Linked DNA regions of Homo sapiens. The protein of the gene in region 3 purifies or fractionates together with the protein of the main gene of each other region. This does not show direct contact. Each region holds a gene or a part of one and is shown on either strand. Other genes may lie near its edges. The genes, in order: ERC1, FASTKD5, MAPK4 and AHCYL2.

Region 1 (7,583 bases), on a different chromosome or scaffold from region 3:
TAATCTCAGCACTTTCAACAACAACAACAATAATAATAATAACGGGCCAGGCATAGGCATATTGCCTGTAATCTCAGCACTTTCAACAACAACAACAATAATAATAATAATAATGGGCCAGGCATAGGCATATTGCCTGTAATCTCAGCACTTTCAACAACAACAATAATAATAATAATGGGCCAGGCATAGGCATATTGCCTGTAATCTCAGCACTTTCAACAACAACAACAATAATAATAATAATGGGCCAGGCATAGGCATATTGCCTGTAATCTCAGCACTTTCAACAACAACAACAATAATAATAATAACGGGCCAGGCATAGGCATATTGCCTGTAATCGCAGCACTTTCAACAACAACAATAATAATAATAATGGGCCAGGCATAGGCATATTGCCTGTAATCTCAGCACTTTCAACAACAACAACAATAATAATAATAATGGGCCAGGCATAGGCATATTGCCTGTAATCTCAGCACTTTCAACAACAACAACAATAATAATAATAATGGGCCAGGCATAGGCATATTGCCTGTAATCTCAGCACTTTCAACAACAACAACAACAATAATAATAATGGGCCAGGCATAGGCATATTGCCTGTAATGTCAGCACTTTCAGAAGCCAAGGAGGGAGGATTGCTTGAGGCCAGGAGTTCAAGACCAGCCTAGGCAACATAGGGAGACTCTGTCTCTACAAAATTTTTTTTTTAATTTAAAAATTAACAATGCATGGTGGCATGCACCTGTAGACCTACCTACTAGGGAGGCTAAGGCAGAAGGCTCACCTAAGCCCAGGATTTCAAGGCTGCAGTGAGCCATGATCATGCCACTGCACTCCAGCCTGAGTGACAGAGTGAGACCCTATCTCTAAAAATAAAAACAATAAAAATTTAAAATAAAAAAAAAATGACTGGAAGCATATACATAAGTTAATAATTACTACTAGGTAACAATACTTTGAGTTATAAGTTTTTGTTAATCTATTTCCCAATTTTACTACAATGGATTTCCAGTGTAATAACATCATGTTTTTAAAAAACAATGATGTTCTACTTCAAAAATAAAAATGCCCTCACTGTTAAAAAAGATTTCAGACTTTTTACAAAAGGAAAAATTATAGAACAACCTACAAATTTAGAAGTATTTTTAAAAATTATTATTTTGCTGCTTTGGGAATACGCCATTTTTTAAACCTCCTTCCTCACATTTTATTTAAAAAGGAATTATTCAGACTCATACTAACACAGATTAGGGATTTATTTTCCCCTGCCCAAAAGTGAAAATTACCTGAAGTCCAACTATATATAGAAAAGTTATTATGGCTATTAATTTTTTAATTCAATATAAGATGGTTTCTTCCTTTACGCCTTCTTAAAATGATACATTATTTAGAAAAGTAAAAAATTATCAGTAGTCACCTAGGTCAGCTAAAAATAAGTAACACTGTGTCTCTACATCACTCTCTCCAGCTATGCCTCCATGGCAGCCAATGATTTTTATCACGTATCTTTTACAGCAAGGCAACAGTTTCCATGGAAACCACAGGGCAAATATCCATTATTGCTGCCAAGGACTTTTATAAGCACACATAAGCTGAGATAACCGCTTACTCTCTTTTACTAATATTTTTAAATTAAGCAATGGTTAGCTATTCTGATTCTGGTTTTGTTGTGTTTGTTGTCTCTATGAACAGATCTAGAGATGAGTGAAAAATCAAGGAATTTTTTACCCCTTTAGCAACAAATGAACTCTCAAAATCAGGGGAGCAGGAGAGAAAAGACCCAGAAAGTCACTGAGCCAGCATACATACCAGACAATGTCATCCCATACAACAGGGCAAATCAGAACAGAAATCAGTGACGCACTTAAATACAAAGGATGAAATTCTCTTCCACCAGCACGGCAGAGCACGTAGATTCACTGGGGCCAAGATGCTGATTAATCAGTGAAAAAAAAGATAACCAACAAATCATAAAACTAAAAAAGTAGTCACATACCTCTCTCAACATACTGTTCTCTTTTTCCTTCTGCTCCAAAAGGCTTTCTAGGTGATGAACGTGCATCTCTGCCTCTGCCAGTCGTCTTGTTCTCTCATGGTCTTCCTCGGTAGCCTTGGCAGAAAGTCCTTTGCTCTGCAACATTTCCAGAAGCTTCTTAATGGATTCATCCCGAGCATTTAGGGTCTGCTTTTGAGTCTCAATACGCAGCTCCATTTCCTCCAATGTCTTTCGAAGAAGAAACAGCTCTTTGGCCTGCCGCTCATGCTCAGCATGAAGCCTCTGAAAGTTCTCCTCTGTCAGCTCTGCTACACAAGGTTCGCCAGTCCTGCTGCTACTATCCTGCTGAAACAGCTGATTCAGGTCCCTCTGGATCCGCAATTCATCCTGGAGAGCCTGGATTGTCATCTGCATGTGCTAGAACCAAGACAAAAAGAAAACCCCCAAATCAGCTTTCCTCCTCAAGTAGCAAATCAGAGCAGCCTGCAGGAATCAAAAATAGCTACAAGAAATCTGCATCTAGCAAATTAGGATTCACCTTATTCTGTTTTACAGGTCCTTAAAAAATGATTGAGATAATATGCAAAATGTCAGTAATTTAACTTCAGTTTATTCTCAACAGGAAGCAAAATAAGTATGGCACTCACTCCTCACTTTGCATAAACTACAATAAAGACACTGTTCAAAATTAATAGAAGATATTAACACGGAAACTAAATTTGAGGGAATGTGGGAAATGGGAAATCTACAGGAATATGAATACATTCTTTCAAAAAATTTCATCAAAACAGCCGGGCGTGGTGGCTCACACCTGTGTAATTCCAGCACTTTGGGAGGCCAAGGTGGGCAAATCAGCTGAGGTCAGGAGTTCAAGACCAGTCTGACCAATATGATGAAACCCTGTCTCTACTAAAATACAAAAGTTAGCCGGGCGTGGTGGCGTGTGCCTGTAATCTGAGCTACTCGGGAGGCTGAGACAGGAGAATCGCTTGAACTTGAGAGGTGGGAATTGCAGTGAGCCAAGACTGCACTCATTGCACTCCAGCCTGGGCAACAAGAGTGAAACTCTGTCTTAAAAAAAAAAAAAAAAAAAAAATTTTTTTTTTTCATCAAAAAATACAAAGGATGGCCAGGCGCGGGGGCTCACACCTATAATCCCAGCACTTTGGGAGGCCGAGGCAGGCGGATCACCAGGAGTTCAAGACCAGCCTGGCCAACATGATAAAACCCCATCTCTACTAAAAATACAAAAATTGGCCAGGCACGGTGGTTCACGCCTGTAATCCTAGCACTTTGGGAGGCCGAGTCGGGCACATCACGAGGTCAGGAGTTCAAGACCAGCCTGGCCAACGTGGTAAAACCCCGTCTCCACTAAAAATAGAAAAATTAGCCAGGCATGGTGGCACGAACCTGTAATCCCAGCTACTCAGGAGGCTGAGGCAGAAGAATTGCTTGAACTGGGAGGTGGAGTTTGCAGTAAGCCAAGATCACACCACTGCACTCCAGCCTGGGTGACAGAGCAAGGCTCCGTGTCAAAACAAACAAACAAACAAGCAAAACCGAAGGACAGCGAAATACAAAATGACTTTTAAGTATTATAAACATTAAATAATAAATATTAACATTTAACAAGTAGTTTGTATATGCCAGATTGTACCACACATTTTTTATGTTATTTAATCTTCATTATGACACATGGACTCTTTTTTTATTTTACTGTAGTAAAAACCCTTAACATGACATCTACTTTCCTAACAACTTTTAAGTGTACAATGCATTACTGCTGACTACAGGTACAATGTTATACATCAAATCTGTAGAGTTTATTCATCTCAACCAAAAGTTTATATTCCTGTTGATTAGTAACTCTCCATTTCCCCCTACCCCCGGCAACTACCATTACACACTTTGATTCTGTGAATTTGACTATTTTAGATACCCAACACATGTACTATTATTTAATTTTATAAATGAGGGCACGAGGCTTAGAGAGGTTTAAGCACTTGTCCAAGATCACAGAGTAAGTGATAGAGCTGGCATTCAAAGCAATCCTTGCAGCCCACTAAAACTAGAACCAAGAAAAAAAGAAAACTCCAAATCAGCTTTCCTCCTCTAGTAGCAAAAACAGAGCAGATTGCAGAAATCAAAACTGGTAATACCCAAAGATAATAATATAGCAAAGTTTTTTTAAGTTAGAATATGCAAAGCTTTTTATACAGGGGACGGTAACAACATGGGTGGCTAATTAAATAAAGGTGTTAATGCAGATGAACTACTAAAATGTTTGAGAGGGTAGATCTTTAGCTTCTATCCCTAAAGAAGGTACACGAACCTTTAATCTGAATGGTTATGTAAATTCCAGCACATTATACAATGAATTCCAAAAGGCTGTGACATCAAAAATCTTATTTTTAGGAATGAAGAAGCAACAATAAAAGATCATTCCTTGTATTCAAGGCCTAAGCAGTGTACCATACTGGGAAGAACACGAAACTGTGATGAGAAAACATGAGTTTCAGTTCTGACTCTCACGCTGACTAGTTATGACATTTAGACATGTCACCATCTTTCTGGGTTTCAGATCCCTCATACTTTAAATAAGGGTATAAATACCTGCATTATCCATTGAAAAAATCTTTTTTTTTTTTTGGAAATAAGGTGGCTGCTCTATTAGTTCGTTTTCACGCTGCTGATAAAGACATACCCAAAACTGGAAACAAAAAGAGGTTTAATTGGACTTACAGATCCACGTGGCTAAGGAAGCCTCAGAATCACGGTATGAGGCAAAAGGCACTTGTTTAATTGGACTTACAGTTCCACATGGCTGAGGAAGCCTCAGAATCACGGTATGAGGCAAAAGGCACTTCTTACATGGCGGCAGCAAGAGAAAATCAGGAAGAAGCAAAAGCGGAACCCCCTGATAAACCCATCAGATCTCGTGAGACTTACTCACTATCACGAGAATAGCATGGGAAAGACTGGCCCCCATGATTCAATTACCTCCTCCTATGGCCCTCCCACAACATGTGGGAATTCTGAGAGATACAATTCCAGTTGAGATTTGAATGGAGACACAGCCAAACCATATCACCTGCTAATGATTTTCAGCCTTAAAAAGGAAAGAAATTCTTACACATGCTACAACACAGATGAACCTTCAAGACGTTGTGCTAAGTGAAATAAGCCAATCACAAAAAGACAAACACTATATGTATCCATTGACATGAGGTATCTAGAGCAGTCGAATTGATAAAGAAGGAACTAGAACAGTGGTTGCCAGGACATAGGAGTGGGACAGAACGAGGAGTTATTGTTTAATGGGTATACAGTTTCAGTCTGTCAAGATGAAAAGAGTTCTGGAGATAGATGGGATATACTGAATGCCACTAAACTGTACACTTCGAAATGGTTAAGATGGTAAATTTTATGTTATATATATTTTACCATAATAAAAAAATTGGTTGGAGAGAAGATGTTGGTCATAAAATTCCACTTACGGATATTTTAGGTTAGTTCTCATTTTTCACTATTGTAAGATGCACCTTCACATATGTATCTTTACACATGAATCCACATTTTTCTTGGGAACTCTCAAAGATGGAATTGCTGGATCACAAAGTATGTACAATTGTAATTCTGATACATATTACAAATCATTTCTATATGTATCTTTGTATATCAACTTTTGTCATATTACAAATCATTTCTATCTGTATCTCTGTATATCGACTTTTGTCATATTACAAATCATTTCTATCTGTATCTCTGTATATCGACTTTTGTCATATTACAAATCATTTCTATCTGTATCTCTGTATATCGACTTTTGTCATATTACAAATCATTTCTGTCTATATCTCTGTATATCGACTTTTGTCATATTACAAATCATTTCTATCTGTATCTCTGTATATCGACTTTTGTCATATTACAAATCATTTCTATCTGTATCTCTGTATATCGACTTTTGTCATATTACAAATCATTTCTATCTGTATCTCTGTATATCGACTTTTGTCATATTACAAATCATTTCTATCTGTATCTCTGTATATCGACTTTTGTCATATTACAAATCATTTCTATCTGTATCTCTGTATATCGACTTTTGTCATATTACAAATCATTTCTATCTGTATCTCTGTATATCGACTTTTGTCATATTACAAATCATTTCTATCTGTATCTCTGTATATCGACTTTTGTCATATTACAAATCATTTCTATCTGTATCTCTGTATATCGACTTTTGTCATATTACAAATCATTTCTATCTGTATCTCTGTATATCGACTTGTCGTATTACAAATCATTTCTATCTGTATCTCTGTATATCGACTTTTGTCTTATTACAAATCATTTCTATCTGTATCTCTGTATATCGACTTTTGTCATATTACAAATCATTTCTATCTGTATCTCTGTATATCGACTTGTCATATTACAAATCATTTCTATATGTATCTCTGTATATCGACTTTTGTCATATTACAAATCATTTCTATATGTATCTCTGTATATCGACTTTTGTCATATTACAAATCATTTCTATCTGTATCTCTGTATATCGACTTGTCATATTACAAATCATTTCTATCTGTATCTTTGTATATTGACTTTTGTCATATTACAAATCATTTCTATCTGTATCTTTGTATATCGACTTTTATCATATTACAAATCATTTCTATCTGTATCTTTGTATATCGACTTTTGTCATATTACAAATCATTTCTATATGTATCTTTGTATATCGACTTTTGTCATATTACAAATCATTTCTATCTGTGTCTTTGTATATCAACTTTTGTGACTCCTCTCTCCTTGTTCTTTGCCCATTTTGTTATTGAACATTTTTTCTTAATCCATTTTAAGAGCTCTTCATATTAGGAAAATAACCTTTCACCTGCTGTGTATGTTACAAATATTTTTCCAAGTCTGCCATTTTTCTTTTAACATTGTTTATGATGACTTTTAATAGATATTTTCTTTTTTAATACAAAGACAATGACATTTTCCTTTATCATTTCCGGTTTGGGTATTATGCTTTTAGCAAGCAGTGAGCTTTCAATTCTGGTAGTCTTCAAACACTTGAAAAGCACTGCTATTTCTTTCGAAGAATAAACTCACCAAAAAAAAAAAAATCAGGAATTTAAATTCATGAATATAAATTTTAAAATGCATTTCACTACCAGCATCATCTTTTAAAGATTAACAGTTGCTGGAGTTCAAAAGACCTTCAATAAAAAGATGTATCAAAATGCTAATTCTCTGAAGCCTAGTTTCTTTCCCTTGGAAGTCAAAAAAAATCCTGACACTCCTGAGTGAATATATCCCAAAGGGAAATACCAGAAGTGAAATTCAACAGGGAAGCTGATTTCTAGGTATGACTGTTCCTCCTTTTCTGACCATTCGTCATCAATTCATTCAAGTCAGGAGAAATATATGTTGGCTACAGTTAACAGTTTCACATACGCTTTGGCACATATGGCTAAATGTAGCATGGCAATTACTATTTTGGTAAAGAAAGAAAACATTAACTACTAGTGTGTCTGGTTCTTCAGCTCCGCCTGCACCC
Region 2 (7,695 bases), on a different chromosome or scaffold from region 3:
TCGGCACCCCCTTGTTGGAGATGGAGGCAGCAGACGTGCAGTGCCATAAGGTGCCCCAGTCCTTCTGGAGGCCTGGGCTGCTACTGTTGGCCACCCTGTGTCTAGTGATGCTCTCTGTGCTCACCTCCTAGGCCATGGAGCCTGAGGGGGCCTGCACCAGGTTTGCTGAAACTGACAGAGCCTGGGCTCCAGACCTCTCTCCCTCCTACAGTGCTCTCCCTCCCTGGGCAGATTGGCAGGACAAGTGGGAGCAGATGGCCTGCCTTTGGCTGAGAGGGCTACCTGCCCAGCCCCTCCCCCAACAAGATCTCTTGGACTCAGGCCTCAGAGCCTGGCCTGGTTGTGAGTGTGTGTCCCTGTGTGTGTGTTGCGGGAGGGGAGGACTGGGGCTGGAAGTCCAGCACCCAGGGAAGATCTGTCCTCCTGTTCTTGGGAAGCGTTGCCTGACGGCTTCTCGGCTCTACCCTCACCCTTCTGGCCAGGATCCCGCAGGGCAACAGCCCCATCTGCTTGGCTGACCCCACACCCAGGACCACTGTCCGGCTCTAACACAGCTATTAAGTGCTACCTGCCTCTCAGGCACTCTCCTCGCCCAGTTTCTGAGGTCAGACGAGTGTCTGCGATGTCTTCCCGCACTCTATTCCCCCAGCCTCTTTCTGCTTTCATGCTCAGCACATCATCTTCCTAGGCAGTCTCTTCCCCAAAGTCTCACCTTTTCTTCCAATAGAAAATTCCGCTTGACCTTTGGTGCACTGCCCACTTCCCAGCTCCACTGGCCCAAGTCTGAGCCGGAGGCCCTTGTTTTGGGGGCGGGGGGAGAGTTGGATGTGATTGCCCTTGAAGAACAAGGCTGACCTGAGAGGTTCCTGGCGCCCTGAGGTGGCTCAGCACCTGCCCAGGGTAGGCCTGGCATGAGGGGTTAGGTCAGCCAATGTCAGCTGCTTCTCTTGGGGCCCTCTCAGAGTCTATCTCCCCAAGACAGGAAGGGAAAAGCAAATTTCTAATTCACCAGCAATAAAAATTGGAGGAGGCTTGGCCCTCAGCCCTTATATCTCTCTCTTTTTCACTCTCTTCCTCCCACCCCCAAGACTGAGTTTTGGGGGGCAAGGTGGAGAGAGCTGGCAACTACTGTGAGCAAGTCCCCTAGCCCCTGACCAGCCTCCTCCCATGACTGGTGACTGTTTAATGAGCTGTGCATCCCCCACAAAAACATGAGTGCCCCTCTGTGTGGCCTCTAACCCTCTGCACAGCCCTTCTGGGTGGTCCTCACCAGGTCTCTGAGCTGGGTGGGAGGCCATCCTGGCGACCACTGCCCATTCCATTCACCCCTCACTGTACCTGCCCTAGAACCTGGGCCTAGGCCACAGGGGCAGGGAGAAGAGAAGGCATTAGTAAGAAAAAAATAGAAAAAAATATGAACAGACTCAGCTTTGGGACGTCCAACCACAAAAGAAATTATATATAAATATATATAAATATATATCTCTACCATATGTGATGGAAAGACTTTTTGTTTTCCTTTCCCAAAGAAATAAAACGGAAAAAGCCTCTTGAGTGGTATTCTTTGGCCTGCTTGTGTCTTTGCAGGTGCGGGAGGTGAGGCCCGGGTGGGGGATGGGGGCAAAGCTGGAGTAAACAGATTTCCCAGAGGAGGCATGAGACTGGAGGTGCTCACTGGGCCGTGCTAGGAGGTTGGCCCAAAGCCCAAGTTCTGCCACGTTGCCCGGGAAGAGTCGTGGTGCCATGTATATGCCCAGTGGGGCTTTCTCTTCAGCTCAGACTGTTGCCAAAGGGGTTAAAAGCTGGCTCCAGCTCAGAATCTGGACACTAAGCTGCTAGCCAGAAAACAGGTGACGCAGGACAGCTAGATGCAGCCTGCAGTCGCCTAAGCCACCTTACAGCAACTGGTAGATGTTTGCGGGCTGAATGGATAGAAGTGAAGACTGGGAACAGGTTTGCAATTAATGGCGAAGCCCCAAAGGCAAAAGGGACCCAAGCGTGCTGCACAGCAGAGAGCTTCCCTTTACAACAGTTCCTCTGTCATCCTCTCAAAGCACACAATCAAGAATGCACTCTGCTGTAAGTAATCAAAGGACCTCAAAGAGTGGTTTATTTTTCCCCAACCTGACAAGAAATCCGGAGGTGGTGTCATGGTTGTTGGATCCTCGGGGACCTAGATTTTCATCCTCCCACTGTTCCATCCTTGGCATGTTGTTCCCTCCTTACCACAAAGTGGCTGCCACAGCTCCATGAAGACATTGAGGCGGCCCTACTTTATCATGAAAAGTAAAAGCTTTCCCAGAGCCCTCCCAGGACCCTTCCCTTTAAGTCCTGTTGGCCAGAACTGAGCCACATGCTCCTCCCACTTCAAGGGAGAATGGGAATTTGAGTATTACAAAGAGAAACAGGATTGTCATGGCTGCCTAGGAACAAACATGGTTCATTCCTTGGGGGCAGGCTCTCTGCTTTCTCTGGGTTCTACTGGCAAGGACAGAGTCATAACAATGAATAGTGTTTGCCCTGGTCTGGCCTGAGGGAGAGAACCCTCCCTAAGCAGTGGTGTCTGTGGTCTGGGGCTCCAGATATTCAAACAGCGCTGTCTCCAGAGCTCAGGAGTTGGGATGTCAGGCTTGCCCCTCCTGGCAGGGACGTGTTCTTCCTACATTGATTTTGTCTTCCCTACAAGATAGGCCCTGGAGGGAGCATGATTTCTCAGCTCTCCTTCACACCCCTTAGAGCCAAGGCATTGACAAGATATGAAGACCCTGATCAGCAGATCTCAAGTGCCCTCAGGAATGGCAGCCTGGGGCCAGGACTTTCTGATAGGTAGAGGTTTAGTAGAGTCTCTTTCTTGTCTAGGTACCTATACTGACAGCTGTGTCAATATATGTACCCAGTAGGACCCAGCCCTCCTTCTTAGGGTGGTGGAGAATCACCCTGGCTCATGCTCCATAGCTCTGGCCTCGCTAAGCCCCAGCTCCACATCCATTTCTCTCAGCAGGCTCATCTATCCATCATGTCACTAGCTCTTTTCCTGAGAGCACTTTACAGATACATCTCTATTATAAATGCATTAAAAAAAAAAAAAGATGGAGTCTCACTGTTGCCCCGGCTGGAGTGCAGTGGTGCAATCTCGGCTCACTGCAACCTCTACCTCCTGCGTTCAAGTGATTCTCCTGCCTTAGCCTCCCAAGTAGCTGGGGTTACAGGTGCACGCCACCATGCCCCGCTAATTTTTTTTTGTATTTTTAGTAGAGACGAGGTTTCACCATGTTGGCCAGGCCGGTCTCCAACACCGGGGATTACAGGTGTGAGCCACCACACCCGACCAATGCATTGTTAAAATTAGACAGGTGTGGTGGTGCATGCCTGTGGTCTTAGCTACTCAGGAGGCTGAGGCAGGAGGATCACTTGAACCCAGGAGGTTGAGGCTGCAGTGAGCCATGATTGCACCATTGCACCCCAGCCTGGGCAATGGGGCAAGACTTTGTCTCAAAAAAAAAAAAAATGTATTGTTTTTCTCACTGTACAGGCTTAGAGAATTTATGTGGGCCGGGTGCGATGGCTCATACCTGTAATCCCAGTACTTTCGGAGGCTGAGGCGGCAGTATTGCATGAGCCCAGGAGTTCGAGACTAGCCTGGGCAACATAGGAAGACACTGCCATCCCCGTCTCTATGAAAATAATAATAATAATATAACAAGAATGAATTTATGTGACTTCTCCAAGGCCATAAAACCCTGAGTGGTGGTCCTCAGATTTGAACATGTGTCTAAGCTACTTACTTTTTTTTTTTTTTTTTTTTTTTTAGATGGAGTCTCGCTCTGTGTCCCAGAGCTGGAGTACAGGGGTGCCCAGACTGGAGTACAGTGGCGAGATATCGGCTCACTGCAACCTCCGCCTCCCGGGTTCAAGCGACTCTCCTGCTTCCGCTTCCTGAATAGCTGGATTATAGGCGTGCGCCACCACGCCCGGCTAATTTTTGTATTTTTAGTAGAGACGGGGGTTTCACCACGTTAGCCAGGCTGGTCTCGAACTCCTGAACTCAGGTGATCCGCCCGCCTTGGCCTCCCAAAGTACTGGGATTACAGGCGTGAGCCACCGCGCCGGGACTAAGCTGCTTAATGACTTCCAGAGCGATCCATCCAGGAAGGTGTTTTCCCTCTGCAGGTCCTAGACTCCCCCTGCCTCCTCAACAACGTCCTCCAGTGGAAAATGTCCTTGGGAAACGCTGACAGAGTCTTTTGAGCCTCGGCCGCATCCGTCACTCGCGCAGCAGGCGGAAGTAGCGGGCAGTTGGCCGGAAGTGGGGCTGTGAGGCTCGGAGTCGCCGGAGGAGCCAGTATCTGTGTCGCCGCCGCCCGCGGCGTCCCCGGTTTGGTGTTGCGGCGCCCACCTTCGGGAGGATCAGGTGAGTGGCGGCGGCCGGGGAGGAGGTCGCGGCGGCCTCTTTCCGCGTTCACGACCGTCCTGGGCCTTGGCCTGTGCCTCCTGTCCTCCCGGCCGGCCCAGAGCTGGAGCGCATCGAGGCCTTGTTCAGCTCTTGGCCTGGGTTGCCAGTGCCTCTCGCAGGCCTGGCTGTGGTGAGAACTTCAGTGACTCTCGCCGCTCCTGAGTTTGTGATCTTTGGCAGGGGGCTTATCTGACCCTTGATTTTTTTTCCTCTGTGAAATGGAGATCGTAACAGTACTTGTCTCACGGTGCTGTTAAGAGAATGTAGTCAGATATTCTGCCGCGCCTCTCATCACACTTTGATGTGCCTGCGAATCGCTTAGAGATTCTGATTCTGTAGGACTGGGGTGGGTTCTGAGATAACTGTGTTCCTAACTAGATTCCAGACGAGGCTGAAGCCTCTGGCACGCAGACCACACACTGAGTAGCAAGGCCCTACAGTATGTTGCTTAGCATTTGGGATGCGGAGTCTTCGGTAAACATCAGTATGATAGGATATATACCTTCCCCCCATTTTTAGCAGTTTCTCGTTGCACAAGCCTAAGGGTAGTATTGATGGCCTTCTCCCTTTTTCTTTCCGTGGGTAAGAATAGTTGCTCTTTCTCTTTCTGTGCAAACCGTGACACAGCTCTTCTGTCTTGACTCAGGGAACTTTGGGTCCCCTCATATCAGCTGTGTTCATCAGTCTTGGGTGATGCTTCACTGATCAGACCCTTGGACAGTGCTTCATCCTGTGGAGCTGATAGCCAGCTGCGTTAGCACCAACTGTGGCTGGCGTTTTGTGCTCCAGTCATTTGTTGCTGCTGGAATCTGAATTCACGTTTTCTACACTTTGTGAATAGTAAGAATGGCTGCCTTTCCAGAACTAGATTCTGTAGCTCACTGACCTGAATGGTCCTGGGCAAGTCCTTGGATAGTTTGCTACTACCTGGTAGACTAAAATAAAATCTGGGCCGGACACAGTGGCTCACGCCTGTAATCCCAGCACTTTGGGAGGTCAAGGCGGGCGGATCACGAGGTCAGGAGATCGAGACCATCTTGGCTAATATGGTGAAACCCCGTCTCTACTAAAAATACAAAAAAATAGCTGGGCGTGGTGGCGGGCGCCTGTAGTCCCAGCTACTCTGGAGGCTGAGGCAGGAGCGTGGCGTGAACCCCGGGAGGCGGAGTGTGCAGTGAGCCGAGATCGCGCCACTGCACTCCAGCCTGGGCGAGAGAGCGAGAGTCCGTCTCAAATAAATGAATAAATAAATAAATAAATAAGTAAATAAAATCTGAAGACTCTGTGCTGCATAACATAACTTAAAAAGTGAGGCCTTTGGCAGTTATGCAGGTCTAATGTTTATTAGTCAGTATGATTTTCTTCCCCATCCATTGGTTTATTTTTTTAGTCCCTAATAAGGCCTTGCCATTCATCATGTGAATAAGTCAACTTTGATATAAAATAATTCTAAGGTCAGGTGCGGTGGCTCATGCCTGTAATCCCAGCACTTTGGGAGGCCGAAGTGGAAGGATTACTTGAGCCCAGGAGTTCGAGACCAACCTGGGGGCAACATAGGGAAACTCTGTCTCTACGAAAAAAACAAAAAACAAAAAAAACACACAAAAAAACAAAATGTAGCCAGGCGTGGTGGTGGGCTTGTAGTCCAAGCTACTTAGGAGGCTGAGGTGGGAGGATCGTTTGAGATCCTTGAGCGATCCTCGCCCGGGAGGTTGCCGGGGTGAGAGGTGGGGGGCAGTGGTCGAGGATGCAGTGAGCGGAGATTGCACCACTGCCCTCCAGACTGAACAACAGAGCGAGACCCTGTCTGAAAAAAAAAACAAAAGAATTCTGAAACTCCTTCTTTATTTGTCTGAAGTATGTACTATACAGCCTCTATACAGCCTTGCAAATTGTAAAAGCAGATAAAACCAAGTGTTTATTGAGCTAACAGTTATAGGTACTTGGACCATTTATTTGGGAATTTTCTCTTATGACGACTGTGTGCATGCAGCTACTTCTCTTTACCTGCCTGGATTTTGTAATTCCTCTAGAAGCCCCATTTAGATGGGCTGAGAGGACATGAGTGCCTACTGCCTGTTGTTATATGGAGAGGTTTTCTAAAGACAGGGTTTTATGAAACCCTTTAAAAGCAGTAGCTCTAACAGAATCATCTACAGGGCTTAGTCATACTATATCTACCCACATCCTTCTTGCCATTCTGATAGAGGAATAGCAGAGTCTTAAAAGAGAAGCGGAAGGGCTGTGTAGCTGAAAAAGTTTCACAAATGTTTGTGATGTGCTGTTTTTCTCCTATCAGCATGGAGTCTAGAACAAAAAGGAAGGGATGGATTGCTAGACTGAATAATTTTAGTTTGGCTTAGACCTGCGAGTGACACTGAACTTGACCTAAACACCTTTGCACTAGTGCTTCACCTTCGCAGTACTGGTAGACTCCTCTCTGAGGCCCTGCTCCCGTGTGGAAACAGAAACACAGAAGAGTCTAGCCCAGTTAACATCCACATTAACAGCTAAGGTCCTTACTGCCAGTCTCTAAGCCCTCACTAGGGGCTTTGAAGTTTTGTAGATTCTCAGCAGAATACCTCAGCACCTAGAGAAAGTTCGGTTTTTTTGCCCTTTTTTTTTGGTAGAGACAGGGTCTCGCCATGTAGCCCAGACTGGTCTTGAACTCCTGGCCTCACGTGATCTGCCTGCTCGGCCTTCCAAAGTGCTGGGATTATGGTCATGAGCCACCTGTCTAGCCAGTTTTTTTGCCTTTTTAATTCTTAAGGTTGCTCAACAAATTATTTGCTGAGACAAGAATAGGGTTGGAGTGTTCATTTATTTGTGGCAATTTTATTGGGACATAGAAAGGAAAAGTGTTAGAATTGAGGGATCAGATCTGGTAAGTGGTAAATTGTATGTGTTTAAGGTGTCTTATACTCAGTCTACAGTTAGCATCGCTCCTTCCTCTGCCTGGCCCCCCTCCTCTAACTTCTAGACTCTAGTTTAAAATGAAGCTATTCGGCTCTGCTCAGACCGGTATGTGGAAGGGAGAAAGGTAAGATTCTTCAGTCCTGTGAAATCACATCATTCAGGGAGGTTTGGGCATTGCCTTTTGGAACTGACAGGGTCCAGGAGTGTCTGAGGCTCTACTCTGTTTCGTTAGGACCCCTAAAGGGGAGAAAGGTATACTTGGGGCACTTAAACTAGGAAAGGAGTTTTGTGAAATCATATCAGGTATCTTTGACCTTTATTGAAAG
Region 3 (7,583 bases):
GAGAGAATTAAAGCTGTAAAGATTGAGGCAGGCAGTATCATCTTTAAAAAAGATGAGTACCACCACTGGGGCAGTGGCTCATATCTGTAATCCCAGGACTTTGGGAGGCCAAGGCAGGAGGATTGCTTGAACCTGGGAGTTTGAGATCACCCTGGGCTTGTTTCTAGCAAGACGAGTAGTAGTTGGCCAGGTGGGCCAGTAGTGGGTTGTCTCTACAAAAAAAATTTTAAAATTAGCCAGCCAAGGTGGCGCATGCTTGTGGTGCCAGCTACTCGGGAGGCTGAGGTGGGAGGATCACTTGAGCCCTCGAGGCTGAGGTTATAGTGAGCCATGATTATACCACTGCACTCCAGCCTGGGTGACAAGTGAGACCCTGTCGCAAAAGAAAAAAAGTCGAGTACCAACCCCAAAGCTGCTCCACAGACTCCATCACGGATGAAAATCTGCTCTTCCCTCTCCCTGACAGCTGATCCTCCTGCAGGTCCCCAGATACTTCTGGGAAGCCCAAACACTAGGAAATTCTTCATTTCTTTTTTTTTTTTTTTTGAGACAGGGTCTCACTCCTGCCATCCAGGTTGGAGTACAGTGATGGGAATACGGCTCACTGCAGCCTCAACTTTCCAGGTTCAGGTGATCCTCCTGCCTCAGACTCCCAAGTAGCTGAGACCATAGGTGTGCGCCACCATGCCCAGCTAATTTGTTATATTTTTAGTGGAGATGGGGTCTCCCTATGTTGCCCAGGCTGGCCTGAAACTCCTGGGCTCAAGAGGTCTGCCCGCCTCGGCCTCCCAAAGTGCTGGGATTACAGGCTTGAGCCACCACACCTGCCCCAGAAAATACTTCCTTTTATCAAACTTAAATCCCCCTTTAACTTCTACCCTAGGGCCTACCTCTGCCTTCAGTGGTTTCCCCAAAGCAGCATGTCCTCTCTGTCCCACGATTTCCCCTCTTCTGTTTCAAGGCAGCAGTCATGTCCCATGTGACATCCATCCTGGCACCCTTCTGACCTGCCTTTCCAAGCCCCTCCTGCAGTGAGAAATGGCTGTGTGCCTGGGGCTGATGGAATGGGGGTGGAAGTGCTGTGTGTACCCCACTTCCAGGCCTGACCCAGAAAAACCTCCTGCAAGAGTCTCTGCTCTCTCTTCCCCTGGCTTTGGCTGGAAGGGAATGCCCAAGGTGACCTTGAAAGCCACCTGCTGAAGATGGCAGACCTGATGGCCTGGGTCCCGGGCACAGCCACTCATCCTCCCCTGCCCATCCATGCTCCCAACTCTGCCTGGAAGTGAAGTAAACAATGAATAAACTGTAAGTGGGTTAAGCCACGGAGATTTCAGGGTTATCTGCTACTGTACAAGCTTCACCTTAACTCCTAAGCCACCGCCCCTCAGAAACTCCTCCTCCCTAGGCTCACCCTCCCCGGATGTTTTTAAGTCATTTCTTAGATAATGAAGCTTCTGTACAATCTTGTCACCTTCCTCTGGCCCAGTGGATTCCAAACTGAGCTGCTCAGAGCCCCAGGGGTTCTGGAAGGGTTCTCAGGAGCATGTCTGGAGATTGAGAGGCAGGTGGGCAGGACACTGAGCCCCTCAACCCTGCTTCATCCAGAGCCCGCCTTTCACCTGTGCCGCACCTGAGTTTTTGTCATCAGATTCATCACCTTTGGTCTATTTCTGTCCTGTAATAAATGGAGCTCAGAATTAATGCCCCCAGTGTGGTCTTGGGGCCTGCCTCCCTTGTTCTGCACCTGTCACAAGATGGACGTTTCGGCTGCTGAGGGATGCTGTCACCGAGACTGGGTCTCCTGAGCCTCTGAGAGCTAGAGGCAGCTAGAGCCTTTGGCCTCTTCCCAGGCCTGCTGAGCCTTGAATATACAGTAGAGGGAGTAAGCCTGAGGAGTGAAGGGCGGTCCTTGCCTGAGGCCACACAGCTCATCACTGGTGGAATGGGACCTGGGTCTTGCCCTCAGGCTGAGGAAGCTCCTGTTCTTTGCAGCACACCAAGCCTTCCAGGACAAAAATGTGAGGGAGGATGAAGGAAAGAGAGGGAGGAAGGTGAGCAAGGAAGATGAGAAGCAAAAGGCAGCAGAAACAAGGGTAGAACACTAATGACTGCCCCTAATGGACTCCTGAGGCCCAGCATCCACAGCTTGGAAGTAGTTAGGGCAAAGGCCCACTGGCAGGGGAGCCTTGACTTTTATATCCAAGGACCATGCTTTGCCCTTTTGGAAGGAGACCTGCCTGCCCCCTACCCCGCAAGGTGGAGCCTAGCTCATCCTCCCAGGACACTTGGCCTGGCTGCCAGGCTCAGGTACCTTCACTGTTCACTTCAGGGAGCAGCTTGCGCAGAGGCCTCTTCACCTCCCAGGTGCTGCTGACAAAGGAAGGCATCACCCTGAGCAGCTCGTCCTTGTCTTCCTCCCGGATTACAGGGATGGTCTCCAGGATGAGTTGCATCTGCTCCAGCTCATGGGCCCCTGGGGAGGCAATGCCAGATGGTTAAGTGTGCTGTCCAAGGGGCTGTGGTGTGCAGTAGCCCAAAAGCAGTGCCAGGTGTTCTGGGAGGGACAACACAGGGCAGTGGGGCAGCACTGGGCTGGGACCGGGGTTCTGGTCTTCATTTGCTGCTCAACTGTGGGCAGGTGGCTGACATCTCTGGGGCTTGGCTTTGTCAAAAGTAGAAAAAGGGAGTTGAATCTGGTAGTCTGCAAGGCCCCATCTATTCCCCTAGCATTCTGTGTCTCAGACCAGCTGGATATAAGTCAGCACTAAAGAATGGGAACAGCCTGGCTCAAGGCCTTCCAAGTGCAACTTCCCATAGACCTCTCTGCACAATCTTTACTAGGATGGGGAAGGAAACAGTTTTAAGGCTGGGAATGAGCCATACCTTTTGGTTTCTAATTAAGAGGGTTCCATCTAGGAAACTTTCAAGAGAAAAACAAATCAGGAATAACAAATTGGGTTTGGGATGTATCTTGAGCACATGGCCTCTGTGATCCTTGGGAGAAGGAAGGCAGGCCAGGCTATGCCAGGTTTGCAGGGGCACTTTGGTGGGACAGGATGGACTCAAACATTCATTTATTCCCTCATTCCATAAATAGTTATTTATCGAGCACCTTCTCCATGCCAGGCATCACGCTGACTGCTGGGAATCGGTGAGGCATAGTTTTCATTCATAAGAAGCTTCAGTCTTTGTCTCAGAAACTCAACTCACCTCCCACACCCAGACAACCACTGGCCACCGTATGGCATTTCTGGCTCTGGACAGATGGGTCTCCTTGCTGTCCTTCTCTGACCTCCAGGCTGTTCTTCTGTACTTCCATTTTCTCTTTTTTGATTGAGTTGCCTTTCCACTTAGCTGTACTAGGTTAAAACTTCAGCCATACCTCTCCTTCCTCAAGAAGTCTTCCCTGCCCATCCAGCTGCACAGAGGGCCCTCCCCTTGCCATGAATTCCCATGGGATTCCAGTCTTCCAGTCATCCAGCCTAGGATGAGGGCTCTCCCAGGTGCCCCCACAGTTCCCTGTGTGGCCCTAAGCACATGTGAATACTGACCGAAGAAGTGCCTGCAGCCTCAGGCTCTCTCCTGAAGAGGTCCTTTTGGCCTCTCCCTGCAGTGGACTCATTGGGTCAGTTCAGGGCTCTGGAAGCCCCCTGTGGGGTCCTCTCTCCAAATGTGTACTCCACACCACCCACCAGGGGACCATGAGGTCAATGGGTGATCAAGCTGCAGACAGAGATGGTGGGACCTTGCTCCCAAGCCCCTGACCCCTCTCCTGTGTGACACACAAACTAGTAATACACAACCTTCTGCTTGGAGTAGCTTCTTCAACCACAGCGGGGGTGGGGGCAGAGAATGAGCCTCTTTCACTTGTCTGCTCCTGCCCGAGATCAATGGTGTCATATGGGAGGCAGCCAGTGGGGCCTCCCTGGGAATCCATGGCCTGGGGCGGAAAGCAAGAGCTTTGGTGGCAGACAGCCCTGGAGGCAGACCTAGCTCCCCCACCCCTTGTGGAATGAGGATGATTATTTATACTTGGAATGAGTATTATAAGGAGTCAAGTGTGTTGGCAGATGAAGGCTCCGGGAGAAATACCTTGCTTGTAGCAGATGTTTAATAACTCTTGACTTCCTTTGCTTCTAGGAGTGGGGAAGAGTGGCTTTGAGAGAAGCTGATGGAATAATTCCACCTTGGGGATTTATGTCCTAATCATCCGTGAGTGATTCTTTGTGACAGACGTCACTTGGGGGAGGCATCTTAACACTGAGTCTACTAAGCCACCACTGAAAATGGGAGAAGGTGTGAAGCATGGAGGATACTATGGTCAATGTCCCTTTCCTACTGAAAGAAGGTCCTTTCCATGTCACACCAGCTGTTGCCTTCCCTGCCTCTCTTGCAATAAGGGGAGGCCATGTGATTCAATCAAACAGGGACAGGAATCTCCTGGAAGGACTTCCGGGGAAGGTGTTCCTCCCTGGTAAGAGAGAAATGTGAGGAGAGCTGTTTGGCTGCCCTGGCTGACCCCTCCCTACCTTTCTTCGTTGGACACTTCTGCATGAGAACCTGAAAGCGATTGCGACCATCTCGTGACCACAGACAGTGAGCCTGAAGATGAGAGGCCAATAGACTGTGGATTATACAGTCTCGTCTGGGCTCTCAGTGAGTCACCTGCCTGCTGTGGTATGGAGAAGCCCAGCTCTTCTCCGTCTGGCCTGAAGGTTGTCAGCCTGTTGGAAGGGCAGCTGGAGCACAGCCCTGTGAGCTGAGGGTTCAAGGCTGGGAGAATGGAGGCAGCCAGGCACCTATGACCCAGATCGTGGGGGCAGGGCCAGAGATGTTGAGCCATCCAGGGTTTAGTGGCTATGGCTAGGGTGGGAAGAGTCTTTGAGTCAGAGTCCAGGGCGAGACCTCCCTCCCACCTGTTCCTCCTTTCTCCCCTGCCTTGAATTGGCTGGAAAATACGGAACTGGGAGGTCTGTGCAATTTCAGTTGGAAAAATAAGATAGCAGGATGGCTCACCCTGGGCACAGATAGGTTCACTGTGTATTTTTTTTTGTTTTGTTTTTAACCCTTTTGTGTCCCCTGCTGGACCATCAGACCTTTGAGGACAGAGACTATGTCTTACTCAGACTTGTATCCCCAGCACGTGGTCAAGGATCCACCCAAAGCACAAAATCCACCAGAGGGAAAACTGTAGGGGCTCCTGAGAGTCCAGGGGGCAAATGAAGACGTTTGTACTCAGGGCCTAAATGTTTGGACATAAGCCCTGACTTCAGCTTCATCTGACTTTCCTGCCATTGTTTTTATTTTACCTTTTTTTTTTTTTTTTTGAGGTGGAGTCTTGCTCTGTCGCCCAGGCTGGAGTGCAGTGGCACGATCTCGGCTCACTGGAACCTCCACCGTCCTGGTTCAAGCAATTCCCCTGTCTTAGCCTCCCAAGTAGCTGGGATTACAGGTGCATGCCACCACGCCCAGCTAATTTTTTTGTATTTTTAGTAGAGACGGGGTTCCACCATGTTGGCCAGACTGGTCTGGAGCTCCTGACCTCAGGCAATCCGCCCACCTCGGCCTCCCAAAGTGCTGGGATTACAGACATGAACCACCATGCCCAACCTATTTTACCTTTTCTTGTTACTTAATGTTACATTAACATATAATTAATATTAACATATCATATTAATATATGTTTTATATATAGCATGTATTTTAAATACTTACTGGAAGAAGTTAGCATCATGAATGAAAGAGTGACTAGCCCAGCATAGCACTGAATAATTCCCTCATTGCTGTGATTGAGAGATTACATTTTCTGGGTCTCTCATTACTCCTTATTAGATAAATCTGCTCCTATGGTGCCTAAGATTTAACTGTGCCCAATATAAATATTTTCTTGGCAGGCTGGGTGCAGTGGCTCATGCCTGTAATCCCAGCACTTTGGGAGGCTGAGGCAGGTGGATCATTTGAGGTCAGGAGTTTGAGACCAGCCTGGCCAACATGGCAAAACTCCGTCTCTACTATAAATACAAAATTAGCTGGGTGTGGTGGCACATGCCTGTAATCCCAGCTACTCGGGAGGCTGAGACATGAGAATCGCTTGAAATGGGGGGTGGAGGTTGCAGTGAGCCAAGATCATGCCGTTGCACTCCAGCCTGGGGGACAGCACGAGACTGTCTCAAAAACAAAACACAATAAAGACTTTCTTAGCTATTCAGACATGGCTTTCTCTTAATGTCCTGCTGGTGTTCCCTCAGAAAGGCCACTGTTAGCCATTTCTTCTTCTCTGGGCTCATTTTCCCACCCTGCATTATTTGAAACCAAATCACCTGTTAAAAAAGAGGTGGGCTGTCCTGGGCCCCTTCTAGGGCTGGCATCTAAAATTCTGTCTCAAGACCATAAGTTCCCTGGAGAGGCCCTTGTCTGACTTTCTCCCCCTGCCTCCTCACTGTCCCTTTGTCCCACAGCAATCCCTCTCCCCATCCTTAGCACTATGTTCTGTGCACACAGCAGATGAGCAGCTGTGAGAGCCAGGGGCTTTGACAGGTGAGTGGGCAGCTCCTTTTCACCTGTGGGCTTAGGTGGTCTGCAGTGCCCATGAGCTAATTATTACACCAGCTGCCCATATGTGGTCACTCTACAGTGAACAAGAACAACAGGCCAGCAACTGAGATTGTCGGCTCCCCGTGGGGCCACAGGGAATCTTGATTAGCCCTGCCACTTGCAGGCTCAGGTTTGTAGACAGAGATTTCAGGGTGGAGGGAGCCCACATGGATGCTAAGGACACACCTTTGCTCTTAGGGGATACTAGAAGGGCCACTGCTGTCTTATATTTTGTGGGATTCAGGGGCTTTAGTGGGGGGAATCTTACTAGGTCTTGGGGTTCTGAAAGGGGGCTGGGGTAAGGCTATCCTACTCCCTCACTCTCCCCCTCCCTTCCCAACATGGAAGTGTGGGGTAGCCCCAGGAGCCTAGGCCTACCAATGCAGGCCATGAGTGCTGGCCATGCCTCCTGTAAGCTGATTGCCAAGAGAAAACACGCTCCCCCTGGGCCACACTGCAGTCATGATCAAGCAAGGAGGTGGGTGGGTACTTCTCAGGCCTTCCAGCTTTCGTGCCCTTTTCCATTCCCTGGACACTCAGCTCCCCAGCGTCTGCCACTCTGATACTCGCTTCAGATCTCTCCTCCCCTGAGCAGTTCTGGGTGATGACACAAAGTCCAGGGTGGATGTGGGGAGGACAGGCTGACAACAAGGGCAGTGAGTGTCCCAGGAACTGAGGATGTGGGGCTCTGTGTCAGGATAGTAGATAAGTGAGTCACATCAGCCTCACAGCCAGAATGATGTGGGACCAATTGTGGAGAGGGAGGCCATGACGTAGGTGCCAACAGCCTCAGTGTGGGGGATGATGGGAGATGAGATGAGGTGCTGGCACGGGAGGACAAGATAGAGAAGAAGAGGGGCCATCTGGTAGGCCACAGAGGAGGGCTGCTTTGTTAATAGCAGGCAAGCAATGGTGAGCAAGGAGGATGCAGAGGCTCTATCCCGCTCTGTGTACAGGGCATGGGAGAAAGGATGGCCTCAACTCAACAG
Region 4 (7,810 bases), on a different chromosome or scaffold from region 3:
TTAAAATAAATGTTTATACATGAAAGTTAAAAAACAAATGCAACAGTCACCAGTTCCACAGCCAAAGGCAGCTATTTCAATACTAGTATTCTCAGTTCCTTCATATGCTATAAGAAAAACAGTAAGGAGTCAAGGTCAAAGTGGTTATTTACATAGACAATCTAAGAATCAACAAAGGCTCAACAAATCAAAATGTCACACTGCAGTTCCTTGGTGAGATGACTTTCAACTTAGGGAAAGGGCAGTCTTGGGCACTTATTTTGATTTAGCCAATTCAATATCAAGAAGGTTAAAGATTGGGCACCTGAAAAGCAGCTCAGCAATGCCCTGAATTTCGTCATCCAGCTGTATCCTTGCCCAGAGCTTCACCTGCTTAACTTTCAGCAGAGAAGTTGTTTTTTTGGTGCAATTAACATTGTAAGGCAAGCTCAGCCCTGCTTTACAATAGCCTTGAGGCTGCTGAGTATATCTACAATCATGGAACATACATTTGGTGCTGAAAAAACAGGAAGATGGTTCAACGACAAGGAAAGTGGTCAAGAAGCACATCTAGAATTAAGAAAAACAGACTCCAGTATGCTGGTCTTTGATTTTTTAACTTTTTTTTTTTTTTTTTTTTTTTTGAGACAAGGTCTCACTCCAGCACCCAGGCTAGAGTGCTCATTGCAGCCTCAACTTCCTGGGCTCAGGTGATCCTCCCACCCCGGCCTCCTGAGTAGCTGGGACTATAGGCACACACCACCATGCCCGGCTCTTTTTTTTTTTTTTTTTTTTGGAGAGAGAGGTTTTCACCATGTTGCCCGGACTGTTCTCAAACTCCTGGACTCGAGCAATCCACCAGCCGTGGTTTCCCAAAGTGCTGGGATTACAGACGTGAGCCATGATTTTTTAATTTCTTTATATAGAATATATTGAACTGTGTGTAACTTTCAGAGGTGGTCATGGGGGCTTGCACTTAAGCCATGATGGGAGGAATAAAATAAAATCAATTATTCATAATAATAAAAGCATTAGTAAGAATATCATTTAAGACTTTATGTGCCAAGCTCAATGCTAAACCTTTTACAAATATTTCTAATCCTCAATCATAATTAGTACTTTCATTTTATAGAAGAGGAAACTGATTTGTGTAATTTGGAAATTACCCAAAAGGTAGTAATGGGGGTACTAGGCTTCAAATCCAGGTCTGCCTGACTGTAAACTTCATGCTCTAAAAGCAATTTGTTAAACACTTTTAGCCTAAAGAAATCTAACCAAATTACAAAGTTTAGACAAAAACAGTCTTTATCACAAGAAAATGACTTAACGATACAAAGTATCTCAACAAGTCAGAAGTATGCTTTGGATTTCCAGACTCAGATCTAGGTACTCCCAGCACTGGTGCTGCTGCTGCCTCTCTTTTTTACTTTACTTTTTTTCTTTAAACCCATTTCTGCAGGATGCTGCCTCTTTCTACTCTAATTCTTCCCAGAGGAGTTTCATACTACAAACGACAAAGACATTGTCTAAAGCATTACAGAAATTCCTTCAGTCTTGCCTCTGACTTATCACCTAAATTTGTATCGTTAGGATGAAAGGATTATCCGCTATACCTTAATCATGACGCTATGACAACAAAAAGTTATGGTGGATCCAAGGTTCCAATTCAGCTGGTCCCACACAGTAAAACCAATGCACACTTCCCGTCTCTTTGTTGCTGTTCTGATAAAGCAATTAAAAACCATTCACAACAATTTAAAAAAAACATTAATCCCTGTGCCCATACTGTGTCTACGAAATTGAAGCTGTAAGCCCTTTTTATATGATCCACACTTCTGTCTTTTCCAATACTTGCCCTGTTTTTCTGTGCTGATTCAGCTTTAAGAGAGAAAGAAAGACAAGCTTTGAGAGAGACAGACAACTATGGATAGACAATGTACGGGTAATACAGGGCTATCATCCACCTAGGCAGTTACTTCTTGGTATTCTGAGACCTCCTCAAAACTGTCTGAAAGAAGCTGACGCCTAAGACCGAAAACCCCACAAAGATCGTCTTTCCCAAAAGTAGCAGCATTTCTTCCTATCACTTTCAGATTATAATAAAGCAATCAATAAGACATTCATTCTCTTCATACACAGCCTAATAATCCTGGTGACCAACTATACCCAGCAGGGAGGACAAAGCTCTTAACACGAAAGAGTGAGGAGAATCTCTCCATTACCCTTTTACATATTCAGGGAAGAGAGAATATCGCAGTCGCTGGAAATGAAGGGCACAGCATCGTGTTGCTGTATGGCCACGGTTGGCCACAGAAAGGCAGAAAGTCATCAACTGTATGGAAACCAGACAACTCTGACGATTTCTATGCAAGGTGACTACACCTTACTCGTTCTCCAAGTATTAAAGATCTTTTCATCCTTATTGCTGTGTGAACTCCCGTGAGCGGTAAGGTTTTTCTATACTATCGAGGTCTCTTCCCCGATAGGCTGGAAAATCACACCCGGGAGCGTGTTGGGGCCGCGGGACGTACTATTAGGTGTCTCTCCTCCCGCTGCCTATTCCAAGTAGTAGGGGAGAGCGCTACCTCCATGTTATTCAGAGCGAAGTACGGCCGTGCCTCCTGGAGTCTCCGCTCCCAGCACGAGGGGCCGGCTGGGGGGCATCTCTGAGAGAGTGGGTTTAAGGGGACAAGGGGTATCTCCGGTCCTGCGATCAGAAAGGAGGGCGTGGAGGGTGGTGCCGCCGTGCCGAGAGGATCTGCAGTTCCCCTCCCCTCCCTTCCTCTCCTAGAGAGGCAGCCCGGCCCCAGTACCTTCTTGACTGTGCGCGGCGCCTCGGTGACGGTGCCGTCGGGGCTGACCAGGGCCTCGCCGCCGTCGCGGTGCCGCTGGTGCTGGTGATGTGGGTCGCTCCGCTTCATGGCCGACGCCTGAGGCACCTTCCCGGCGGCGGGGCTGAGAGCGGCGGCGGGCCCCGAGCCCGGGCCGGGGACCGGGGGCCGCTCCGCGGCGGGAGCTGGAGCCTCAGGGTCTCCACCGCCCGCCGGGGGGGCCATGGCGCCCACGGCGGCCGTGCTCAGTCCTAGTTGCGACTCCGCCTCGGAGGGGCTCAGGTCCTTCAGCTCCACCTCAGGCACCTTGGCGGCAGCCGCGGCTGACACAACCTGCACCGACATCACCGCCTCCGCTGCAACCACCGGCTCAGACTCCAGCTCCTGCTCTTGGTCGGCCCCGCCTCCCACCTCCCTTCCTCTTCCCTCCCCCATGTCCCCACTCCTCCCCTCCATCGCCTCCTCTCCCACCCCCTTTCTCCGCCCGCCAGTCCCGGCCCCTCCAGCCCCGCCCCGCCCCGTCCCGGTCTGGCCTCGCGCGAGGCGCCACGGAACCTGTAGTGCGTTTGCTCCCGGCCGCACGCGGCGAGAAGACCGTGGGACCTCAGGCCCCGACCTACACTGCGCGCCCCATGGGCGGGGCCCGCAGCGTCCCCTGGGAGTTGTAGTCCTTTCAGCCTTTCCTCCACTAAGTGAGATTCAGCCGAGGAGAGGGAGCGCTAGGGCCGGCAGCTAACAGAAAGGAGTGAGGATAGGTGACTCGACGGAGGGGATGAGGAAGAGAAAGTCTCCAGAGGAGTTGTGACTTCCGGGGAGGGAACGCCAAGAAGCCTTAGGGGAGGGGAAGTGGTAGAGGAATGGCTCGTTGTCCTGACAGCGTGAAGTTCCTCCGCGCGTGCCCGTCTGCGATCACGTGAGCGAGTATTTAAAGGAGAAGCGGCGGCTCCAGGCTGGAAGTGGCTTTATTTTTCTTTGTGATATTGAGAACTCAACACCCTTCCAAACTTCAGTGGCTTTGTTTTTAGAAGGGATAAAGTAGGACCTTGCTTGCTGTGGCGCTTTCTGTCACATTCTGGGTTTGGAAGCTAAGATCATTCCTCAAAGAAGTTAGGTATCACTAGATCAAAATTCAAGGCTGAGGAATTACACGTTGCCTTAAACGAGGCCAAATCTTTTCACCTATAATTCTAATAGGGCAATCATCTGAAATTCAGATACATATATCAGCATAGAGGGATATGAATAGTGAATATGAGTAGTTAATTTCCTAAGTGATGGGATTTAAGGTGATTTTTACTTTGTACTTTTCTGTATTATTTTTAAATTTTACATTTAGAGGATGTAAGCAAAAAGACATGCACCGCAGCGTCCTTTTTAATAACAAAAAACTGTCTAAAACTAATGTCCAACAAATAGAGCAATTGTTACAGCCTTTGAAAATCGTTTGCCAGCTGGGCATAGTGGTTGACGTCTGTAATCCCAGCACTTTGGGAGGCCAAGGCCGGCAGATCACTTGAGATCAGGACTTCAAGACCAGCCTGGCCAACATGGTGAAACCCCATCTCTACTAAAAATACAAAAATTAGCCAGGCGTGGTGGCGGGCACCTGAAATCCCAGCTACTTGGGAGGCTGAGGCAGGAGGATCGCTTGAACCTGGGAGGCAGAGGCTGCAGTGAGCCAAGATCATGCCACGGCACTCCAGCCTGGACAACGGAGTGAGATGCCGTCCCAGAAAAAAAGGAAGAAAGAAAGAAAATTGTTTGCCAATACTTTTTAACAACAAGGTTTTCCCTTTTTCATTCTTTACTCTGAAAGCCAAAATGTGAAGAGGAAGCTAAGAAACTCTTGTGTCTGGTACACTTGTGAGCTCTGTGGAAATGGCAGTGCTCAGACGCCTTCCGATACATAGTGTGAGGCACAAATTTGGCGATCAGGAAATGAGAGACTCCAAGGCAGGACAACTTCACGAAGTGAAGATTTCCAAAATCGTAATAGCACAGGAAAGAAGATCAAGGCATTCTGGCTTTCAGAATAAATGCTTATGATAAAAACATTAAGCTAAGAAGCAAGAGACAAAATTGCACATGCCATAAGATTTTATGTAAAGAATACTTTAAAAAGCCTGTAATCCCAGCACTTTGGGAGGCCGAGGCAGGCAGATCACGAGGTGAGGAGATCGAGACCATCCTGACTAACACGGTGAAACCCCGTCTCTACTAAAAATACAAAAATAAGCCGGGCGTGGTGGCGGGCGCCTGTAGTCCCAGCTACTCGGGAGGCTGAGGCAGGAGAATGGCGTGAACCCAGGAGGCAGAGCTTGCAGTGAGCAGAGATCGCCCCACTGCACTCCAGCCTGGGCGACGGAGCAAGACTCCGTCTCGTAAAAAAAAAAAAAAAAAAAAGAATACTTTAAAAAAACAAAATGCAGTTGACTCGCGACAGATTATGGGGGGGGTTCCTCTCTATGCTCAGAGAAACAGGAGCAAAGGGGTTCATACAGTTTACAGCTGTTTCAGAGACTTACAGCCCTAACAACCCAGGCAGCCACTGGACAGCTACTCTTTAGACATCTAGTCTTTGGTGTCACTGTGTTTTGCCTGGCAAGGAGAAGGAAGGAGGCCAGGCATGGTGGCTCACACCTGTAATCCCAACACTTTGGGAGGCCGAGGCGGGTGGATCACTTGAGGTCAGCAGTTCGAGACCAGCCTGGCCAACGTGGTGAAACCCCATCTCTAATAAAAATACAAAAATTAGCCAGGCGTGGTGGCTTCTGCCTGTAGTTCCAGCTACTCAGGAGGCTGAGGCAGGAGAATCCTTTGAACGCAGGAGGTGGAGGTTGCAGTGAGCCGAGATTGCACCACTACACTCCAGCCTGGGCAACAGAGCAAGACTCTGTCTCAAAAAAAAAGAAGGAGAAGGGAGAGAAATCACCTGCCTCGATCTTCTTTCCTGTCCTACTATTTTGGAAATCTGTTCACTCTGTGTGGTTGTCCTGCCTTGAATGGAGGCTCTCATTTCCTGATCTCCAAATTTGTGCCTCACAGTACATGTCGGAAGGCATCTGAGCACTGCCATTTCCACAGAGCTCACAAGACACAAGAGATTCTTAAGTTTTTTCTTCACATTCCGGCTTTCAGAATTTCCTTCCTGTTAAAAAGAAACCAGCCCAGAGCTTCATCCTCCAGCTGTCGGAGCAGAGATTAGCAGCTCTGTAACTGATTTCATTCTTCCCCCTAATGCTCAAGGGAGCTACGGTACAGCCACCTGGCATGTGTTGGAGCTCATAGGCAGCAGCTGCCTACCTGCCACTAGAATTGATTACTGAGAGGATGAATTAATTCTTCAGTGTGATGTGGTTATAAAATATAAGGAGTTAGAGCACTGGAATGAAACTGATACCCTGTTTTATTCCAGTCACCACCACTGATTGGGGCCAACCATCAGGACACATTCTTCAACCTGTTGTCAACTCCATCCCTACATACCTGCTGCTTCTGCCATCCTTGTAGCTGAGGGACACCAGGTACAGTTGAAGATCAAATTACATACTAGAAACAGGGTAATTAAGCACCAGTTTATGAACTATTTAATGAAATATTTGGACTACAGGTCTTCTTCCTTCACCCGGCTCATTCAGCTTCCAGAACGCTGGCAAGCAGGAATGTAACGTCCATGCAGGACATTGGTATAAAAAAGAATTTCTTTTTTTCTTTTTCTTTTTTTTTTTTTGAGATGGAGTCTCGTGCCATCGCCCAGACTAGAGTGCAGTGGCATGATCTCGGCTCACTGCAACCTCTGCCTCCTGGGTTCAAGCAATTCTCCTGCCTCAGCCTCCCGAGTAGCTGGGACTACAGGCACGTGTCACCACACCCGGATAATTTTTTGTATTTTTAGTAGAGACGGGGTTTCACCATGTTAGCCAGGATGGTCTCAATCTCCTGACCTCGTGATCTGCCCGCCTTGGCCTCCCAAACTGCTGGGATTACAAGCCTGAGCCACCGCGCCCGGCCAATAAAGAAGAATTTCTTGGCCAGGCACGGTGGCTCACACCTGAAATCCCAGCACTTGGGAGGCCAAGGCGGGCAAATCACGAGGTCAGGAGTTTGAGACCAGCCTGACTAACATGGTGAAATCCCGTCTCTACTAAAATACACAAATTAGCTGGGTGTGGTGGCACACGCCTGTAGTCCCAGCAACTCGGGAGGCTGAGGCAGGAGAATTGCTTGAACTTGGGAGGCAGAGACTGCAGTGAGCTGAGATTGCGCCACGGCACTCCAGCCTGGGCAACAGAGCAAGACTGTGTCTCAAAAAAAAAAAAAAAAAAAAAGAAGAATTTCTCTGAGGTATCTGACCAATCCAAGAGAGAAAACAAAGATACTAACATTGAGAGTTTCCAAAGGAAATAAGCCAGCCAGATCACCCGCCCTGAAGACCATACTCATGTTCACAGAGCTTCCGTGAACAATTTAGTGTCACATTCTTAAGTATGAACAGACAACCAAAGTCACCAGACATATGAAGAAAACTTTGGTTTTTTGTTTCGAGACAGAGTCTCACTCTTGCTGCCCAGGCCAGAGTGCAGTGGCATAATCATAGCTAACTGCAACCTCTGCCTCCTGGGCTCAAGCAATCCTCCCACCTCAGCCTCCCAAGTAACTGGAACTACAGGTTTGCACCACTACACCTGGCTAATTAAAAAAAAATGTTTTTGGTAGAGTAGGGCTCTTGCTATGTTGCCCAGGCTGGTCTCGAACTTCTAGTTGTTTTTTTTTTTTTGGAGACGGAGTCTCGCTCTTGTTGCCTAGGCTGGCGTGCAGTGGCGCAATCTCGGCTCACTGCAACCTCCGCCTCCCAGGTTCAAGCAATTCTCCTGCCTCAGCCTCCCGAGTAGCTGGGACTAAAGGCACCCACCACCATGCCGAGCTAATTTTTCATATTTTAGTAGAGACGGGGTTTTACCATGTTACCCAGGCTGGTCTCAAACTTCTGAGCTCAGGCC

Evidence for each region.
Region 1: the proteins of MAPK4 (region 3) and ERC1 purify together in Homo sapiens (affinity purification with mass spectrometry; 2 studies listed by BioGRID and IntAct, with this or other methods). This does not show direct contact.
Region 2: the proteins of MAPK4 (region 3) and FASTKD5 purify together in Homo sapiens (affinity purification with mass spectrometry; 3 studies listed by BioGRID and IntAct, with this or other methods). This does not show direct contact.
Region 4: the proteins of MAPK4 (region 3) and AHCYL2 purify together in Homo sapiens (affinity purification with mass spectrometry; 2 studies listed by BioGRID and IntAct, with this or other methods). This does not show direct contact.

What each region holds. Positions count from the first base shown.
Region 1 is NC_000012.12:1,078,003-1,085,585, reverse strand, and holds part of ERC1 (ELKS/Rab6-interacting/CAST family member 1), read right to left. Parts: intron 2,423-7,583; coding exon 2,006-2,422; intron 1-2,005. UniProt on the Homo sapiens protein: Regulatory subunit of the IKK complex. Probably recruits IkappaBalpha/NFKBIA to the complex. May be involved in the organization of the cytomatrix at the nerve terminals active zone (CAZ) which regulates neurotransmitter release.
Region 2 is NC_000020.11:3,156,482-3,164,176, reverse strand, and holds the start of FASTKD5 (FAST kinase domain-containing protein 5, mitochondrial), read left to right. Parts: upstream 1-4,311; 5' UTR 4,312-4,411; intron 4,412-7,695. UniProt on the Homo sapiens protein: Plays an important role in the processing of non-canonical mitochondrial mRNA precursors.
Region 3 is NC_000018.10:50,716,828-50,724,410, reverse strand, and holds part of MAPK4 (mitogen-activated protein kinase 4), read right to left. Parts: intron 2,474-7,583; coding exon 2,312-2,473; intron 2,305-2,311; exon of another isoform or gene 1,472-2,304; intron 1,027-1,471; exon of another isoform or gene 991-1,026; coding exon of another isoform or gene 891-990; intron 1-890. UniProt on the Homo sapiens protein: Atypical MAPK protein. Phosphorylates microtubule-associated protein 2 (MAP2) and MAPKAPK5.
Region 4 is NC_000007.14:129,220,422-129,228,231, reverse strand, and holds the start of AHCYL2 (adenosylhomocysteinase 3), read right to left. Parts: upstream 3,203-7,810; 5' UTR 3,156-3,202; coding exon 2,793-3,155; intron 1-2,792. UniProt on the Homo sapiens protein: May regulate the electrogenic sodium/bicarbonate cotransporter SLC4A4 activity and Mg(2+)-sensitivity. On the contrary of its homolog AHCYL1, does not regulate ITPR1 sensitivity to inositol 1,4,5-trisphosphate.